2 separate regions of the Homo sapiens genome follow, and region 1 is linked to region 2. Evidence: fine-mapped expression QTL. A gene starts in region 2. The other region holds a variant in brackets. All regions are shown on one strand. Distances are between the middles of the regions. Region 1 overlaps PPP1R37 (protein phosphatase 1 regulatory subunit 37). Region 2 holds the start of CLPTM1 (CLPTM1 regulator of GABA type A receptor forward trafficking).

Region 1 (4,379 bases), 190 kb before region 2:
ACTCCAGCCTGGGTGACAGGATGAGACTCGGTCTCAAAAAAAAAAAGGAGATAATGAAAGAAGGGCTCCTCCTCAGGGAAAACAGGCACAGAAGCTGAATGAGGAAGCAGGTGGGGCTGAGTTTAAATCGTCTTGAACCTGCAGGATGGGCAGGACAGGAGCCGTCAGCTAGAGGCAACTGTGCTGAGAGCTGGAGTGGGAGGTGGCAGCGGGGACCGAGGTGCCTCCCTTCCCTGCCAGCCTGACTCACCAGTGTCATGCCCAGGAAGGCCATGCCTGTGTGCGTGAGCTGGTTGTTCCACAGCACCAGGGTCACCAGCCCCTTCCTCTGCTCCTTGAGGCCCTCGCAGATGTAGGCCAGACCTGGAGGAGGCCGGCAGTCAGAGCCCTGTCTGGGGTCCGGGTGCTTCCTGGGGAGGGGACTGCAGGGTAGGAGCAACCCCCTCTGCTTAGGACCTCCATGGAGGCCCCGCAGTCCCAGGCCTTGCCCTGCAGCCCTGCCTCGGCCTGGCACCCCTGGGCACACATCTGTGACCCCTGGGCCTGGGTGCCTGGATGACAGCCTCCACCAGATGCTTCTGATCTTTGCTCAAATGTGACCACCTCTGGCCCACCTCACCTCACAGCCAGCTCACTCCCACCCACAGTCACCACTGTCTCCCTCCAATGCAGATCCCACCATCTGACAGGCTGGAGATTTCACTCATCTTATCGTTGTCTCTCTAGACTGGAGTACAAACTCCCAAGGGCAGAGCCCTGTGTCTCCCTCCGAGCTGAGCCCAGGGGCCGACAGCCATGGCCCTTGGCAGGTGCTCAGTAGAGTGGGGTCTGGGCCTGCCACCTGGGGACACAGTGACCCACCCCACCCCTCCAGGATGCAACAGGAACGCCTCCTTTGACGGCTCCCCATTCTCTGCTCAACCCCCAGCATCAAACACCAGAGCTCCTCCCACTGCACTCACTGCTCCCGCGGTCTGGACCCTTTCCCAGGCTTCTCACAAGGCTGGTTCTGCTCCCAGCCTCCGGATGGAAGCCCAGAGGCCCCGCCCCACGGTGGTCTTCCCTCCTCTCCCATCTGAAAGCAGCCTCTAGCTGACCCTGTTATGGCAGCAACACTGCTTTCTTTTCAGATTGTAATTATTCACTTCGCCTCATCCTGCGGCTGTCAGCTGAGCTGTCTCCTCCTCCTGGAAGCCCTCCCTGGCCCCCAGACTGATCGGACCCCGCCTCTGGGCTCCACCAGCCCAGTCCTGCCCACTCTAGGTTGTCACTGTCTAGGGCGGGTCTGTCTTCCTCCTGGGAGCCCCAGCAGGACAGCGTTGGGGTGGTCTTGGCCATGTCTGTGTCCCCAGCACCACCTAGCGCAGGGCCGGGCAGAGTGGGTGCTGGGTGACGGGTGTGGGTGGGGTGGGCCACTGCACCCACCCGAGTCTAGCACGTGGTTGTTCCGGAGGTCCAGGATCTGCAGGGAGCAGTTGAACTTGAGCAGGTTACCCAGCTGGGCCGAGTCCTGCAGGCCGTTGAGCTTGTTGTCCGCCAGGTACAGCTCCCGCAGGTTCATGTTCATCTTCAGGGCCGTGGCTGGGGACGGGGAGGGGGCACGGTGACTGGGCAGGCCCCTGCCCCCCAACAGGCTGCACATCCTGCTCACCCTCCCGGGCTTGGGGCTCACCGAGCAGCATGAGGGGCCGCCCCGACAGGCTGGCGTTCTCCAAGTGCAGCACTGCCAGGCTGCTGCGGATGCGCAGGGCACGGGCCACGAAGGGCGCCGAGTGGTCCAGCAGGGGCGTGTTGCGGGCGTCCAGATACTGCAGGCAGCTCGTCTGCAGGGGCAAGAGGACAGGGGTGAGGCACTGGCTCAGGCCTGCCCCAGCACTCCCTGGCCCCAGGACCGCCCCAGCACTCCCTGGCCCCAGGACCTGTGCCCCCATGTCTCAATGAGCAACGAAGCCACAGCTGTCGTCTGGCTATGTCGCCTTGTTTTACAATGGGGGTAACTGTGGCTGGGGAGGGAAGGCTCAGCCTGGGGTCCTGTGGGTGAGCGAGGCAGGGCTGGTGGCAGCCAGGATCTCCAACTCCTGTGTGGCTGGGAGGTTACCAGATAGCCCCGTCCCGTCCCTCCACCCAGCCTTCACACAGGAGTGACGTGGGGATGGCGACCATGGCCACCTCCAAGGGGATGACATTACAGAAGGATGACATTACGGAAGGGA[G/T]AAGTTGGAGGTCATGAAATGCCTCGCAAGGAGAGAAGGGGCCAGGGGGCCTGGGGGCCAGGACACCTCTCGGCCCTGTTCTCCTGGCCTGAGGGCCAGGCCCAGCATCCCCACAACAGCCCACACTCAAGAGCTCATGCAGTCAGAGCCTACGGGCCATGCCCTGAGAAAGTGCCTCCCCGTGCTGGGAGCCTGAGCTGCCTCTTCCTGGAAGCCGAGAGGCGCCCACCTTGCGCATCATGTGGGCGGCCGCCTGCCAGCCCCGGGTGCCGATGTGCTTGTTGAAGGAGATGTTGAGGTGGGTGGCCGACTCGTAGTACTCGATCATGTCGAAGAGGGCCGAGGCACCCTGCGCATAGAGATTCGGGGGCTCAGCCTCAGCTCTGGGCTGCCCTGGAGGAGAGGCGTGGGCCCTGACACCGGGCCCCACCGAGAGACGATGGGTCCAGGGTCTGGAGAGAGCCACACGGGAGAGGAGGACAAGCACAGACAGGGCCCCGTGAGCCACGGGGACAAACCCTTTCCTTCTCTGCTGTAGTCAGTTTTGTTTTCTGTCACTTGCCCTCCAAAGTCCTTGACTGACGTGCTGAGTGACCAGGACAGGCCTTGGTGTTCCTGAGCCTGGGCCTCAGTTCTCCAGGTCCCCTGCCCCTGGATCCCGACACCTGGGGTGCCTGGGGACTCCCAAGGCTGAGGAGGTGAGGGCCCTTGGGCCTTGATGGGAGGCTGCTCTCAGAATGCTTCCCAAGCCCACCCTGTAGGAGCTGGACCCTCCAGCGTGGTTCCTGAAAGGGCTCCTGGGGGCCACACGCCTGCCCCTCAGCCCAGCTCCCTAAGGCTCTCCTTGCTTATGAGGGTGGGCCATAGGTGCCCCAACGCGCCCTCCACATCCACTCTGGTCATATTGGATGTCTCCCTCTTGCCCTGCAAGAGGCCCCGCCCTTGCGCCACCCCTCAGCCTTTGTCTAGGGGACCCCCTCCTCCTGCAGTGTCCTCTCCCCACCCAAACCTCGAAGGGGCCCGGGAGCTCAGGGAGCCAAGTGGGCGGTGGCAGGGCCGCTCACATCTTCATCCAGGTTTGTCTGCTCCAGGTCCACGACCTTGAACTGCAGCCTCTTGAAGACCTCTTCCAGGGCCTCACAGGTCTTGTAGTCAAGCTTCTCACCTGGGGGGAGACAGCAGCCGTGCGCATGTCTAAGACAGTGCACCTTTGCATGGCTGGAAGGGCCCTCTGCCCCCAACCTCCCACCCCCCACCAGGCCCAGCCCCTGCCCTGGCTGAGCTCAGCTCCAGAAGCCGCTAACCCCAGGCAGGTCCTCAGACCCAGCTCTAGGGAGCCCCCGACCTGCCCATGACCCAAGGGCTCTCAACCCCTAGCCAGACACACACCTTTCAGGTCCAGACAGTCGAGGCGGTGCCCGAGGTCTGTGAATTCCTGAGAAAGTAGAGTGGGGTTAAGGCAGGAAGACACTTGAACAGGGGGGCAGCCGAGGCCCCAAATGGCTGCTATGCCTGAGGTCAGGCAGGGTTCTGGGGTGGGGTTTGGGCGAAGGCACTGAACAGAGGCTCAGAGGCCACCCACCAGCTGGAACCTGGGGTACAGGGCCTTAGACAGCGAGAGAACTCTGCACCCACACAACTGAGGACCAGCCAGCACTGCAGCCAGGCAGGCCTGGGCGAAGCCCTCTGCCCCAGCGGGACCGAGTGAGGGAGTGGGCCCAGCATCTCTGGGTATGTCCCAGCAGAGGAGGGAGTCTGTGCAAAGGCTGTGAGGCAGGAAATGAGCCTGGGAAGATGGCAAGGCTGGGCACAGGAGGCTTCTTGGTGAAGGCAGGGCCTGGGGCCCAGCACCCAGTCAGAACCCACCGTCCCGCAGATGCCAGCACCCGCGCTCTGAGCTTACACACATCACCTGCAGGGTGGGTGCTGCAGGGCTGGTCTGAACCAGGCCGATGGGGTCCAAGGACCCACCCTCTCAGCTGCCACACTGAGCAGCCACCCTTCCTGGGACCTGACAAGCCCCTCTTCTGGAATGTTCCAGAGAACCTACCCTAACTCCAGTGAACACTGATGGACAAGGAGCGTGGTTGCTTCCAGCACAGCTGAGGGTACAACAGCCCGAGGACAGGCAACCCTGGAACCCTCGGAACGAGCGGTGCTTCACTG
Region 2 (4,379 bases):
CTGTGGGTTCTGTGTCCGAGTTCCTGGCTACAGGAGCAGGCTAGCTAAAGCAGCAGACTGTGCAGAGGGTGTGCCTGCTGTGCACTAGGCCCTGGGCATGGGAGAAGGGTGGCAGTGGCTGTGGACACATCAGTGACTAAGACACAGTTCCTGCTCTCGGATCTGCACGTCCACGCACACACACAATCCCCAGCAACATCTGCTAAAGGGTCCAAGAAGTAGCTGAGACCACCAGGGCTAGGCAAGAGCAGGAGGAAGCTAGGTTTTGCGGCATGTCTTCACTGATTACCTGGATCCACCACGGCATCAGGGAATTCCACCTCAGCCCAGCCTCTGTTTCAAGATCCGCTCATTCCACAAACACTGAGCACCTCCTCTGTGCCTGGCGCTGAGCTGAGTGGTGCTAAGGAAGCAGTGGTGATCAAGGCAGTCCTGGCTCTGCCCTCCTGGGGTTCCCAGTCCCCAGACAGTGAAACCCAGTAGGGCAGGGCTGGGACAGCGGAGCCCAGACAGTCAAAGAGGGCTTTCTGCAGGAAGGGACATCTGAAATCTGTAGGACTAATACACATCAACTAGCTAAAGAGGGGAGAGACCTGTGCATAGACTATGAGGAAAGAGACTGAGAGGCAATAAAAGAGGTTTAGAAATAAAATAGGTTCAGAGCAGCGGATCCCCTTTAGCGCAGTTGTTCTCACGCAGGGATGGCTTTGCCCCCCTGCTCTTGGAACATTTGGCAATGTCTGGAGACATATATGGTTGTCACAACTGGGGAGGGGCGTGGATCCTACTGACATCTAGTGCGTAGAGGCCACGGATGCTGCTAAACATCCTAAAATGCACAGGGCAGCCCCCCAAACAAAGCATTATCCAATTCAAAATGTTGATAGTGCCGAGCTCGAGAAATCCTAGTCTAGTCTGAAGAAAAGTGTCGGATCGTGCAAGACTGTGATTTATTAAAGAATTTGTACTTTGTCCTAAAGGCAAAGGGGTAACTCTTGATTGTTTTTAAGCAGAGTTGGTACAAGAGAAGATCAGAGTGCCATCTGGAAGCTCAGGGCAATGAGAACAACCTGGGCCCTGGTCTCTCAAGCCACCATCAACCCAATAATCAACAGAAACCCAGAGGGGAAACGACCTCCTTTCAGCAAGACTGGGAAACCCTTGAAGACAGGAACTGAGCCTTCATTCCAGCACTAACTCAACAAACATTTCCTAAGCTGTCCCTGAAGCCAGGCCCTGGCTGAGAATGCTGAAAAGATTCAGAGCAGATACAGTGGGCTCTATCACACAAATTTCATCCATGTGTCCTACCCAAGTGATACCACTTGCTCTTTCTCTGGGCTCCCCCAGTCCCTGACACAGACTTTTGTCACCAACCTAATCATTCAGGATTACAACTGTTTACATGTCAGTCTCCTCTCTTCGTCCCCTGACAGCAGGGATATGGCTGGCCCTCCTGTCCAACCTCTGCATTTAACACGGGAGAGATAAAGGCCTAAAGAGGGAAAGGAACTTGCCCAAGGTCACACAGAGAGTCAGCTTCATTCTCCCCTCTCAACCCGCACTCCTTTCCCCTGAGCTGCCTCCCACATGTCAGTGACATCCCAGTGGGTGGGTCGACAGCACCTTCATGTCTCTCCATCTATTCCCCAAATGCCTGAACGGTAGCTGCCTGAAATGGTATGCTCTGCAGTGTGTTAAGACAGCAGTGGGGCAGAAGTCATCCGCACCAGGACTAATTAACCCATAGAACTATTTTACATTAAAACCACAACCATACCAGTCCCTGTGTCAGCAGTGTCTTGTAACTTCTACATAAAGTTACAAACCTAACCAGGATGACCTTCTAGAAGCGCCTTAGTCTCACTGTTCCTTGAATTCCCGTCTGTAAAATGGGTCTGTCGGCCGTGCCCTGCTAATACTGACTTCCCCACAGCTAGAAAACTCCCAATTAATCACTGCGCACACCTCAAACACTACAACGAGACCTGAACGCCAGACCACTCTAGGAACGGCCTCAGAGCATGGAATCGCGGAGTTGAGAACCCAGCGCGCCAAGGTACAAGCCTGCGCCCCTCCGAGCCACTGTCTCCCCGGATCGAGCAATGAGCCTGGTGGCCGCCCGGCTCGAGCGTGCAGGGGAACCGACCCGCAACAGGGCCCTGTTCCCGGCACCGTCCGGCCTCCCGGGCGGTCCGGCCCTGCCTGGGCCGGGTATTCAAGGTCCCTCTGGCCAAGGAGCCCCCAGTGCACGGGATTCCGTGACAAGAGGTAGGACACGCCCCGTGGGAGGCCCCCCGGCTGGGGAAGAACCCCCTCAGTCCCCTCTCGGCCTCCGTACCTGACCGGAGCTGCCTCCCCCGGCCGCCACCACGGCGCTGCGGGCCCCGTCCGCCTCCTGCGCCGCCGCCATCTTCCCGCTCCGGGTCCCCGCCCCCGCCGCCAGCCCCGCCCCGTCCCCGACTTCGCAGCGCAATCGCGCGAGATTTCACGCTTTCCTAGCCCCGCCGGGCCACCCTATCCGGCAAGAGTGCCGCAGCCACGCCTCTCAGGAAGGCCACTTCCGGCTATGGAAGGACCAACCTGGCCACCGTACTCGTCTTTCTCCCAGCCCGTTTGTTTCCACCTAATAAAAACACTGTATGCTCCGAACTCCAGGACTTTCTCGGCCAGCATGTGCCTCCCGCAAGTTCTGTCCCTTCCGTCCCTTCACATTAACCCGCCTTTTCGGTTATATGAGCCTTTCGGGACATCCTGTCCGCTTCTCCCTGCCGATTCTTCGCGTCCTTTTCGTTCCATGTTTCTTGAGCTTTACCGGCCACTGTACGGCTTCGAACCACGCCCCTCTTTCGTCAGAGGAACCTTTCTGGCCACCGTATTCTGATTCGAAGAACTAGCCTTTTGCCCAGCACCCTTGTCTTCTGACCCCTCTTCCTAAGACAACTCTTTCGTTCAAGTCTCCTGAGCTCATATCCTTTCTGTGTTTTTAGAGTTCCAATTCCAGGGGTCTTACGGCCAACAAACCTCCGATGAGACCCTATGATACACCCCCAAGCCTTCGGACTGCCCTGCCTAGCACGCATGCGCGTTCCCTCAGTGGTCCAAACCTCGCATCCGTGGGCTAGGCTTCACGGGCTCTGAGAATTCCACAATTTTTCATTAGCTGTGTGTCTTCGTACAGCTCTAAACCCGGCCATCTGCTGAGAGACCCTTAGTTTGGAGAGGGTGTTACGGAGGCCCAGAGAGGACAAGACTCTCAGAGGCTGTTAACTGTTCACCCGTGAAATTGGGTGGATGTCTGGCCAGGGTTCTAACCCTTGTGGTGCTACTGACTGGATAAGATATCCTGGACAAGTGACGTCTCTCTCTCTCTTTTTTTTTCTTTTTTAGACGGAGCCTCACTCTCCCCCAGGCTGGAGTGCAATGGCGCGATCTCGGCTCACTGCAACCTCGGCTCACTGCATCCTCGGCCTCCCGAGTAGCTGGGATTACAGGAGCACGCCACCACTCCTGGCTAATTTTTTTTTTTTTTTTGAGACGGAGTCTCGCTCTGTCACCCAGGCTGGAGTGCAGTGGCGCGATCTCGGCTCACTGCAACCTCTGCCTCCCGGATTCAAGCAATTCTCCTGCGTCAGCCTCCCATTTTTTTTTTTTTTTTGTAAGTAGAGACGGAGTTTCACCGTGTTGGCCAGGCTGGTGACAAGTGACATCTATGTTTGAGCCTCAGTTTCTCCCCTTTTATAAACCAGGGATATAATCGTACTCGTTCTTCGTCTTCCCGTTTTGCCCCGCTGTGTTATTGGGAAGACGTAGTTAGATGGCGAATGGAAAACATCAGGCCCTGGGCCTCATGCTTAAGTGGTCAATATTTGGAGCGCTGTGATTATGAACCTTATATATTACCTGGAAAAAGAGTAAGCTTTGCATTGGGATATTCTGAATATATAATTATCATTTTATTATCGGTTTCCTCCACTTTCCTCTAGGTCTCAGCCCTGTAACAGTAGCTCTCGCTCTAGGAAACTCTCTCTGAGCCCTTTTCCTATCCTCCCTTGCCCCCTCAGCTCCTCCACCCCATCCCTGCTCACTTTGTGTCATCACTGTCAGGGATGGGTGTGTCTCCCCAACTGGGCAGGCTGACCTGGGACTGTTGTGGTCACTGCTGTATCTCCAGCACTGCCCTGGGGATGATTGCCCTGGGGATGAGGCTCTCTAGGTGCAGAAGGTGAGTGACTTACCTCTCTGAGGGCTAACACAGGACAAGAAGGAACCTTAGAAAACTTCGCTCCTCAGCCAGGCGCGGTGGCTCACGCCTGTAATCCCAGCACTTTGGGAGGCCGAGGCAGGCGGATCACCTGAGGTCGGGAGTTCAAGACCAG

Evidence for each region.
Region 1: its variant is fine-mapped to the expression of CLPTM1 in whole blood (INTERVAL, PIP 0.91).

Annotation. Positions count from the first base shown.
Region 1 is chr19:45,139,505-45,143,883 of GRCh38, reverse strand. It overlaps PPP1R37 (protein phosphatase 1 regulatory subunit 37), which reads right to left. Exons shown (of 13, transcript NM_019121.2): 3 at 3,603-3,648; 4 at 3,278-3,378; 5 at 2,443-2,562; 6 at 1,673-1,823; 7 at 1,426-1,581; 8 at 251-363. Among named protein-coding and RNA genes, the nearest start is that of NKPD1, 19 kb to the left of the region's middle. The variant G/T (reference allele first, on the strand shown) is at 2,214.
Region 2 is chr19:44,953,430-44,957,808 of GRCh38, reverse strand. It overlaps CLPTM1 (CLPTM1 regulator of GABA type A receptor forward trafficking), which reads right to left and starts at 2,429. Exons shown (of 14, transcript NM_001294.4): 1 at 2,342-2,429. The coding sequence starts at 2,413. RefSeq lists a silencer at 2,177-2,506.